Regions from separate parts of the Homo sapiens genome. Here region 1 is reported to be linked to region 2. The links are microRNA targets in miRTarBase. Many come from high-throughput screens and were not tested one by one. Region 2 holds a microRNA gene; the other region holds the end of a gene's coding sequence.

Evidence for each region. The annotated mature microRNA hsa-miR-6841-5p reads UAGGGUACUCAGAGCAAGUUGU and lies in region 2 at 2,703-2,724, opposite strand. An mRNA with a match to its seed (bases 2 to 7 or 8) in the 3' UTR can be bound and repressed. Matches are read on the target gene's strand: a 7mer-m8 pairs with bases 2 to 8, a 7mer-A1 pairs with bases 2 to 7 and ends in A, and an 8mer does both.
Region 1: miRTarBase lists TAB1 as a target of hsa-miR-6841-5p. Seed matches in the 3' UTR shown: 7mer-m8 at 3,509-3,515.

The regions. Positions count from the first base shown.
Region 1 is chr22:39,429,715-39,434,714 of GRCh38, reverse strand. TAB1 (TGF-beta activated kinase 1 (MAP3K7) binding protein 1) reads right to left here. Exons shown (of 11, transcript NM_006116.3): 11 at 2,833-4,700. The coding sequence ends at 4,493. LOC100506472 (a long non-coding RNA gene) reads right to left here and starts at 2,555. Exons shown (of 4, transcript NR_040535.1): 1 at 2,052-2,555; 2 at 1,849-1,898; 3 at 1,479-1,486; 4 at 1-590. RefSeq lists enhancers at 1-483, 484-1,202.
Region 2 is chr8:24,951,139-24,956,655 of GRCh38, forward strand. It overlaps MIR6841 (microRNA 6841), which reads right to left and starts at 2,729; the gene lies at 2,658-2,729. NEFL (neurofilament light chain) reads right to left here and starts at 5,474. Exons shown (of 4, transcript NM_006158.5): 1 at 4,334-5,474; 2 at 3,043-3,167; 3 at 2,338-2,657; 4 at 1-1,814. The coding sequence starts at 5,377. The coding sequence ends at 1,672. RefSeq lists an enhancer at 3,025-4,224.

The DNA.
Region 1 (5,000 bases), not on the chromosome of region 2:
TCACCTTTCTGGGGGTCCCTGAAGGTAGGAATGGAGTCTGTGAACTGGTGTCAGTATTTCTCAAAGCCAGCTGTCAGACACTGTGTCTGTCCCTGACGCGGCCGCCCAGGCTCGTGGAATGCCAAGCGCCTGTCTCTGCTCGGGGCTGACATCACCTCCGCGTGGGAACAGAGCCTGTGCTCATGCCGAGCTCATCGGGATTGGCAGAAATCTGCATCCTTGTTTGGTTTCAAAACAGGGGGCCCAGAAGGAAGACTCATGAAAGATGCCCTTGTCGGCGGAAATTTCAGGAGCTTGGCCCACAGCCCCTGTCTGCACTTCGGCTGTGAAGAGGCCAGAACCACGCCCGCTGCCCAAGAGCTAGGCTCTGATGAGGCTGCAGGTAGCATCGACCCGGTACCTGCTTCCACCAGGGCCCAGGCTGAGCCCTCATGGCACAAGGGTGCCCATAGGCGTGTGGTGGATGGGTGGACATCTCGGCTAACGCTCCCGTCACCTGTACCTGTCTCCCCATCAGTAGGGCAGGGGCAGCTCTCACTTCTCACGGCTATGGCCACTCGATGTGTTCAGCAATCTAAGTGGGTCGTCGCCTCATTTTGTACATGAAAAACCAGCCCAAGTTACTGCCCAAGGTCACACGGCCATTCCCTCTGTCCCTTCCTCCCTGACTCATGCCATGCTTGTGTGAGGGGCTGCTGCGTGCCTGGCTGGGACCTAGTGGAATAAGAGAGAAAGCCCTTGCTCCCGTGGAGCAGGCGAGAGGCGACACGGATACAGGCTGAGAGTGAGTGACCCATGGAGGAAACAACAGGGAGACGGGCAGGGGGCGGTGGGGTGGGGGCCAGGGAAGGGCTCTTTCCAGAGGGGGCATCTGTGCTAAGACCTGAGGGACAAGAAGGAACTAGCCCCGCAAACAACACAATCGGGTGCTTTTCCCTTTGATGTCTGAGCAGCCTGGAGTCGCTCCAGACAGGCCCGGCTGCCCCCACTGCCACTGGCAGGAACATCCCGACACGGGCATCGTGGGGAGCCTGCTCTGCAGCTCCGCTCCTGGCTCTGCTGCCAGCTCCCAGCTCATGAGAGAATGAGACGACCAGACCAGGACGGTACAACTCCTAGTGAGGATGGCTCACGGGTGCTGCGGCGCCCTCAGACCACCTGCCCCCGTCCTGGGACAACGGGATTTCTGAGGGCCAGGACCTCCGTCAAGCCAGCAACCTAGCTGGGTTTTGGGAGAGACTGATGTCTTTTTTTTTTTTCTTGAGACAGGGTCTCGCTCTGTCGCCCAGGCTCTGGAGTGCAGTGGTGCTATCTTGGCTCACTGCAAGCTCCGCCTCCCAGGTTCACGCTATTCTCCTGCCTCAGCCTCCAGAGTAGCTGGGACTACAGGTGCCCACCACCACATCCGGCTAACTTTTTTTATTTTTAGTAGAGACAGGGTTTCACCGTGTTAGCCAGGATGGTCTCGATCTCCTGACCTCATGATCTGCCTGCCTTGGCCTCTGAAAGTGCTGGGATTACAGGCCTGAGCCACCGCGCCCGGCCGAGACTGATGTCTTTAAGGAATGAGTGGGCAGGAGGTGGGGGATGGGCTTCTCTGGTTCCATCTGATCCTGCCTCAGTGCTTTCCCCACGGAGGCTATGGGAGGCAGACAGGCTGGAGAGGGCCACTTTGGCCCACCTTGTGTCAGACGCCACCTGGGGACGTGGACGGTGGCAGTGACCCACCAGGGCTGCACAGCTTCGCCTCGCTGTGCCATTCACTTTCCTTACCTTGACTCCTGGCCCCTTAAGTCCTCAAACCCATTCCCGAGCTTCCCCTCTTAGATGAAACAGTGTCCCTCTCACCTTCATTTCCCTCCAGGAGACAGGCTCAAGTGCAGTAAGTAACACCAAGGCTGGGGACAGGGGACATAAAGTCAACAGTGCAGCGCCCGGCCCCACACGCTTAGGGCAGAGCAGGTGCTGGGAGAGACCTGGGGCCCAGAGTTGCATGGTGGCCACTTGTGACCAGGACTGTGCCTGAACCTGTCTGTGCCTCAGTTACTCACCATGTCTCTCTCTCTCTCTCGGGTGGCAGGGCTGACACCAAAGCTCCAGGAGTGTTCAGGGGCCATGGTGGTCCTCAGGACCCCTGGCGGCTCGGCTGGGGAAGCTGAGAAGGACAGATCCTGGAAGGAAGCTCCGCAGGCACAGCCCCTGCCCAGCAGAGTGGAGGGGGGGACATCCGGGACCCTCTGACCACACCAGACAGAGAGTGGCTTTGTTCCTAAGCAGATGCACTGTTTCGGTTTCTGTTGCAGAGGCTCTTCTTAGAGGGATGAGTTCTTACGTCCCAGAAAGCAGGATGAAGTGCTCTATGGACTGGTATTTATAGAAGATCCTTCCCCAAAGCAAAACCCAGTAAAGCAAACTAGCTGGCAAGAGGGCAAGGCCTCCGCCCTGGTGACCTGAGCACCGGGTGGCCACAGCACCACTCACACACCAAGACCCTAGGCTCACTCTCAGCAGAGTGGAGTTGGCACCACAACCCTGCCACTGGCCATGGGCCAGAGGGCTTGGCCTGCAGCAGGGAAAACTGTCACCCCCTTCAGATGTGCATGAACACATCTGGGTCCGAGAGTGGGCCTGGGAGGTAACAGGCAAGCCATGTTTCCCCGGGGCTGTGGGGGCGGCAGCATGGAATGCAGCCAGAAGGCCTGGGTTCAAATCCCAGCCCTGCCACTTAGCAGCCTGGCGAGCCGAGTTCTTGAACCTCCAGGGCAGTGAAGAGGGGAGGCGTCCACTTCCCAGGGCCACTGCGAGTTACAGGAAACATGAGCAACAGCGCTATTAATATCACAATGTGTAATGCCACCATTTATTACTTCTTTACTACATTAAAAAAGTGACCCTGTTTCTAGAGACCAAACAGCACCACAGAGGCATTCTTGGAAGAGAATTCCTTTTGTTCCCAAGCCTTTGTGACTGACTTTAAATCCTCTCACCTGCAGAACAGAGATGGCTTCAAAGTGGGGAGTGAGGGAGTGAGCGAGGACCCTGGGCTGAGACCTGTTTTTCTTCCATTTCTGCTGTGGCTTCCCACAGCTCCCTGGTTCCACACCAGGCCCTGCTCTGCCGCAGGAAAATGGATTCCCAGGCCACAGAGCTGTCAGGCCTTTGACTTCGCAGAGACCAAGCACCCCAGAGGCTGTGCGACAGCGGCTAGTCCCTGGTGGGCCGGTCTGGGGCATGGGGGGCAGGGAGACTGGGAGATGGGGAGGGCGTGGAGAATCCGGGGGGTCCTGGATACTGACAAAATGGCTCAGGTCTGAGCTCTGGCTGCCCCACTGATTGTGTGGCTTGGCCAAGGTGCAAGTCTCTCGGCCTGCTTCCTCTGAAACAGGAGTGGCAATCCTGGCCGACAGCCCTGGTGGCACCCCCTCCCCACTGAAGGCAGAGAACATGTGGGAAATAGTCTAACTCAGGCCCTGGGCTGGGCTGGCCCGACCCTTCTCCTATGCCTCCCAGGGTACTGTGTCTCAAAGAACCTCTTCCCTCCTGGAACCATTTTCCACTCCTCTTTCTTTCAAACAAGTCCCCCAGCCTGACTCACAACCCCTGCTTGCTACCCTCAGCCGGCAGAGGCCCCTCATCAGTGGTAAAGACAGTTCATCTCAGCTGCCTGCCAGCCTATGGTCTTCACAGCACCAGAAGGAAAATGCAAGGCAGGCACCAGCTCACCCTGGCTCAGGCCTGACGACAGCGGCCCCTGCCTCAGCCCACCGGGGCCAGTCCTCACCTCTCCCGCACGCCTGGCTCTGGGGAAGCCCAGGCCGCCATCCTCTGGCAGTTCCAGGTCTCTTAGACCACTTCCCCCTGGCTCCTTTCCACCTGGCCTGCCCCTTCTGTGGCCATCCCAGGCCCCAGATGCTGCCCTGGTCCTCCTGAACGTTTACAACAGATGACACAACCAAGGCAGGTCCAGGGGTGGGGCCCAGGGACAGATGCGGACACCAGCCTGGGTTCCACTCTGGATGCAGGAGCACAGGGCTGAGAGGCTGGAGAAGTGGAGGGCTACTGTCCCGAGGTGAGGGAGGTGATGGTGGGAGGAGGGGTGGGCTTGGGACAGCAGGGTCTGCTGGGCCTGCAACACTCAGGGTTCACAGGGCGCCTCTTCCTGCTCTGTAGGAGGCTGCTGGGGAGGCTCGGGCGGCTTGCAGGCCCACTGCGGTTTCTATACCTGGCCCTCTGCTCTGAGAAAGGGCGATGGTCCTGGCTGAGGCCATCTGGGAGGAAGTGGCCTTCAGCTTCCCGGGTGGTGACAAGGTATGAACCACAGGTCCAGTCTGCACTCACACACTCTACTGCCCGGAGAGCCATGGGACAGAGTCTGCTGTGGGCAGAGGATGGGGCACCTGCTGGCCGTTGTGGCACAGGCAGATGTTAGGAAAAGGCTGGACCCTGTCCTGCCCCATGCCAGGCCCTGCTTGGGCTGCATTCTCCGGCTGCCCTACGGTGCTGTCACCACGCTCTGCTCGCCATGGTCCACGCTCCAGAGGCGGTAAAACTCAGCAAAGTCCACATAGGGCTCAACACGACCGTCCTCGCCAGGCGGGAGCGAGTGGGCGGGCCGGGAGCGGAAGAGGCCTCCGTCAGAGCTGGAGCTGCTGCTCTGCGTGTGCGTGTTGGTGGACTGCAGGGTTAAGGTCGGGCTTTGGCTGCAGGACAACAGGGGAGGGAGTCAATCAGAAGCAGCCGGGTCAAGGGGCCTGGGGCAGAGTGGGGACAGAATGGCCCCTGCCTCTACCAGCCTCTTGGGCCACAGGCCTTTCTGGCAGAGGTGACCATAGGAGCTGGCCCAGCCAGATGATCTTAGGAACAGATAAAAAGTCAAATTTTAAAGCACCAGATGCATGTGGCTACTTAAATGAACTAAAGGTAAAGAAAATGGGGCTGGGCGCGGTGGCTCATGCCTGTAATCCCAGCACTTTGGGAGGCCAAGACGGGTGGATCACCTG
Region 2 (5,517 bases):
GAAAAGTTTTGTTTCTGAGGAGACGCCTCATCTTTACAGAAGCCAATACACTGAGAGCCTTCATAGTTCCAATCCATTACCATCATGGCAAGGAAGCACTTTACCTATTTGCATAGCAACATATATTTAACTAGAAATAGGTGGTACAAAGGGATTAAGTAACTTTAAATGGAGACCACTTTGGTTTCAGGTTAAATTAATAACTTATAGAGATCGTCTAAAAAACAAATATTGAATGAAATTAGCTGACAAAGCAATTGTTTCAGAACAAAGGCAGAATAGCAGATAGTAATATCATCTATATTTATTCCACATCAAATGCAAGAGCGTTCTTAACTTTACGACAGAAAGGATACATGGGGCGTGTATTTGATGCAATGTCCAACCAGTCAAGCTATCATTGAAATCCAAATATCTCCCAGTAGAGACATGCAGAGCAATGTCAATGTAACATACAAGCATATTACCTCCCCCCTTAAGTGACTCATAATTTCATTACTTGTGTCTGTAGCTTTTAAAGGTTTAAAAATGTGTAGCATTAAGTGGTATTTACTTGAGGCAACAGAATTACGCTTAACAACACACTAAATCATGAGCTCAGGATTGCAGGCAACATGTTTGCAGTGGAGTGGCAAATAACCTTTGGTAGTTTTAATCCCTTCTCCTGAAATTATATATAGATAAAAAATTATTCCTTCTTATTGTACCATGTTCTCAGGTTTTAACCTCCTCCCATGATATTTAGACTATATTTTAAAATGCAGTTATAGGGATGAATGTATGGGATTCATATTCTATCCATATTGCATTGTGACATATCAGTTTGAAATGACCTATTTATCATGGTTCCATAGTGTAATGGTTAGCACTCTAGACTCTGAAATGACCTGTTTACCATAAAGAGTGTATCTGTCAAGTAATTTCAGAATTGCTCCCTAGAAAGCCATCCCAAAACCTAACACAACACGTGTTATGAGGCAAAGTCTATTGTTATTTATAGACTTTCTCATTTACTCATGTTTATTATCAGTAAAATTTTTGTGGGGAGAGATTTCACAAGTAATCATGACATAACTGTATCCCTCAGAATTTCCAATTGAAGGAAGAAAAAAAAGTATTGGTAATTGTTAAAATTTCAACTTTTTAAAAAATTGGAGGTCAATAGTCCACTGGTATATACTTTATATTGGTGCCATCTTTAAGGTATTTTAATTAAGTAACAACCACAGCAAAAAATACATCATTCGGTATAACTTTATTTACTATTTATTGCACATAACTCAGGGTCTTTAATTGCTAACCACCGAAGGTTCAAAGGACTATTTTTCCATGAAGTTTAACATTAACATTAGTGAATTCATTTACTCATGTGGTGTTTTTTATTGTAAACATCTGAATGATTCACATTGCCGTAGATCCTGAACTCATAAGCGTGGTCCATGCACAGGCTGGCAGCAAGCCAGAAAGCCACTCTGCAAGCAAACAGATACTCTGCATAAAGAGGAAATTCATAGCACAACATTGAATGTCCAACCTAAGTCATCTCAGAATTATACATATATTGACTTTTTAATTCACATAGAATCTGGAACTCAACTGGTTGGTTGGTTGGTGATGGGGTTGACCTGATTTCGGGAGAATTATTCCTGAAATAATTAAGGAAATGGGGGTTCAATCTTTCTTCTTAGCTGCTTGTTCCTCCCCAGCACCTTCAACTTTCTTCTCCTCCTCTTCAGCTTCTTTGGTTTCCTCTCCTTCTTCACCTTCACCTCCTTCTTCTTCTTCTTTTGCTTCTTCAGACTCTTCCTTGGCAGCTTTAACATAAAAAGAAAATGTACAAAATGCAAATCCAGGGTAAGTCCAGTCAAAACATGTCTGCAAAGGTTTTATTTGCAAACACAACTGTCAGAATGCTACCAAAACCTCCCAGCTCCACTCTCTCCAAAAGCACATGTAACAGACAAAGCTTGCCATGAATAATTTGCCACTGAACACATATTTAAATCGAATGAGATCACTTCTAGGTATGGGAAGCTCTGCTCCTCTCCAAGACTTAACCTCAATATTTCTTTCATTATGTGTCTGGTATCTATTTTTGTTCTTTAGGACACCAACCTGCTGTGTTAAATGATTATATTAAAAAATGAAAATTTTGACCAATCACCTCATTCAGAGTAGATGCCTTAGGAAAGTTTTGCTAAACAAACAGAAAATTTATTTATGATTCTAATGTCATATATGAATAAATGAGCAAGGCTTCATTTGTCTTATCCACCTCCTAACAAATCTCCACACCCAGTTTACACTTGAAGTTGCAGGGGTTTTTTCTTATCATACCTTCTTCCTCTTCAGCTGCCTCCTCTTCCTCGGCCTCTTCCTTGTCCTTCTCCTCCTCCTCGGCTTCTCCTTCAGAGGGGGGCTCATCCTTGGCTTCCTCAGCCTTGGCAGCCTCAATGGTTTCCTCCACTTCGATCTGCTCCTCTTGGACATGGCTGGTGTAGTAGGACGGGAAGGAGCGGGTGGACATCAGATAGGAGCTGGTCTGTAAACCGCCGTAGGCAGATCGGCCAAAGACCTGGGAGCTCTGGGAGTAGCCACTGGTTATGCTTCCCACGCTGGTGAAACTGAGTCGGGTCTCCTCGCCTTCCAAGAGTTTCCTGGGGATGCAGATGCAAGGTGAGGTTAAAAAACACCTGTGTTTCACAACTTGCTCTGAGTACCCTAAACACAAAGGCAAGCAGGAGCAGGGCTGGGATTTATCAATACTTAATGCCTGGGGATCTTTTGATGGAGACCAGAAAAAATATAAATAAATCATCCTATTAGATTTAAAGTGTAATGACAAGATAAAAACAGGACTCCTAATTACAGGGTTAAATTCTTATATATCTAAATACCCTCTTCTTGGAAGAAGCCAAAAACTAACACTTCATTATTTCAAAAGGACTATTATTGAAGGTTTCTGATCCAACATAACTTTAAATGGGATCTGATTTTCTTCCTAAGGTTTAATGGCTGCTGTCTTTGCCCCTCTATTTTCACCTGTAAGCTGCAATCTCAATATCCAAAGCCATCTTCACGTTGAGGAGGTCTTGGTATTCTTTTAGGTATCGTGCCATTTCACTCTTTGTGGTCCTCAATTCATTTTCTAATTTGTTGATCGTGTCCTGTTTGAAGACAAAAATAAAACAAAAAAAAAATCCGAGCATAAATCCCTTCTATTATTTTACTGTAGTGTAGTTGCAAAGGCCTAGTTTCGATTAAAATCAAGGTGCACACCTTTGATAAAATCTCTCCTAGAATAACTTCCTGTATCTTTTGAAAAACCTTCATGCCTAAAATACCCAAGTTCATGAAGCCTGAGATGAAAAAAAAGATGGACGAAAATTCTGTTCTTCTGTTTCTTTACTTAATACTGTTTAATGATCATCATAAAATGCATGCAAACAGACTAAGTTGATAGAAAAACTGTGTCTCTCATTCACTGATTAACTCTTCTTTAGCTGGGTTACATGCCAGGAAACTAATGCCTTTCTTTATGAGAAGAAAATAGCCAGATGTAAACAAAAAAAAGAAAAAAATTATTTTCTATGAAATATTTCCTATGTATCTAAATTATTTTTTCTACTCCCCAGAAGAAGAAAAAAATTTCTACTCCCCAGAAGATGGAGATGTTTTAAAATGGAGATCTTTTTAAAATTGTATTTTTTCTACTCCCCAGAAGATGGAGATGTTTAAACAGAAATGTTGTAGAAGATTTTACACATAAAGAAAAAAAGAAAAAAAAAAGGTAAAAGGAAATGGTTTACTATGAACATCACTAGTTAACTACCTAAAACAATGTTGACTATTTTCCTGTCTACCTACTAAATAAAGGAAGGGAGTGGTTGGTAAAACTAGTCATAAAGCATGCTGGTCACAGTAATCCTTCAGAATTAATTGAGAGTTGTTCACTCTACTATTTATTAACTAGATGATCCGATAGTTGCTGCAAAGTAACTTGTGGTTAATGCAGGTCAGTAGAGAGCTGATCTCACTGCAGGCCGGAGGCAACGCCCAATTCCCACGTCTTCCCCTCCCCCACCCAACAAGGGCTGGGCAGCTTTAATGCGGAACGCCGGTGCAGCAGCACGGAGCACACTCCCAGACTACAGTGGCGCCCGCACTCACGCCCTTCAAGTGCCCCACCCCTCCCACACAGTGGCCAAGGAGCCAAGCCCTATCCCTAAGAGCTGCGTGCAGCCGCACCACCCCTGGTCTCCACTTTCTGGGCGCACCAACTCCCCCCCTTGCTCGAGTCCCCCGCCCCCCTGTGTTTCTGGCCGTGCCGCACCTGCATAGCGCTGATGTCGGCGTTCTGCTTGTCCTCCAGCTCCTGCAGCTGCTTCTCCAGCGCTTCATTCATGCCCCGGCATGCTTCGATTTCCAGGGTCTTGGCCTTGAGCAGACGACGGCTCTCGGACACCTCGTCCTTGGCGGCGCGCACGGCGTCGGTGTTCTTGGCGGCGCTCTCGGTCAGCACGGTGAAGCGGCTCTTGAACCATTCCTCAGCGTTCTGCATGTTCTTGGCGGCCAGCTTCTCGTACTGCGCGCGGATGTCCTTGAGCGCGGCGGAAAGGTCGGGCTTGGTCACGTCCATCTCCACGGAGATCTGCGCGTACTGGATCTGCGCCTGCAGTTCGGCGATCTCCTCTTCGTGCACTTTCTTCAGAAAAGAGATTTCGTCCATCAAGCTGTCGATGCGCTTCTCGAGCTCGGCGCGAGCGAGCGCCGCCTCGTCGGCGCCTTTGCGCGCTTCCATCAGCCGGCCCTCGGCGTCCTCGCGGCTCAGCACCTCCTCTTCATAGCGCGCCTGCAGGTTGCGCAGGGTCTCCTCCAGCCCTTCGCGCTCGCCCTGGAGCGCCTGCTTCTCGTTGGTGGCATCTTCCGCCGCCAGGCGCAGGTCGCGGATCTCCTGCTCGTACAGCGCCCGGAAGCGGGATGGCTCGGAGTGCTTCTGGCGCAGCACCAGCAGCTCGGCTTCCAGGACCTTGTTCTGCTGCTCCAGCTCGTGCACGCGCTCGATGAAGCTGGCGAAGCGGTCATTGAGGTCCTGGAGCTGCGCCTTCTCCTGCGTGCGGATGGACTTGAGGTCGTTGCTGATGGCGGCTACCTGGCTCAGGTCGAGGTTCTCCAGACTGGGCATCAACGATCCAGAGCTGGAGGAGTAGCTGCGGCGCACGGACAGCGAGGAAGACACCGGCGCCGAGTAGCTGGAGTAAGCTGAGCGTGCGGTGCTGTAGCCGCTGCGCACGCTGGAGATGTGCACCCGGGGCGTCTCCACGTAGCGCCGCTTGTAGGAGGTCGAGTAGTACGGCTCGTAGCTGAAGGAACTCATGGTGGCGGCCGGTGGCTCCCCGGCCCGCGGCGGCGGTGGGAGCCCGGAGAGAGAGGACAGGGGAGAGAGGGAAGGGGGAGGATGGATGGCTGTGTGCGGCTCGGCGCCGTTCTGCCACCCCTATTTATACGCCGGGAGGC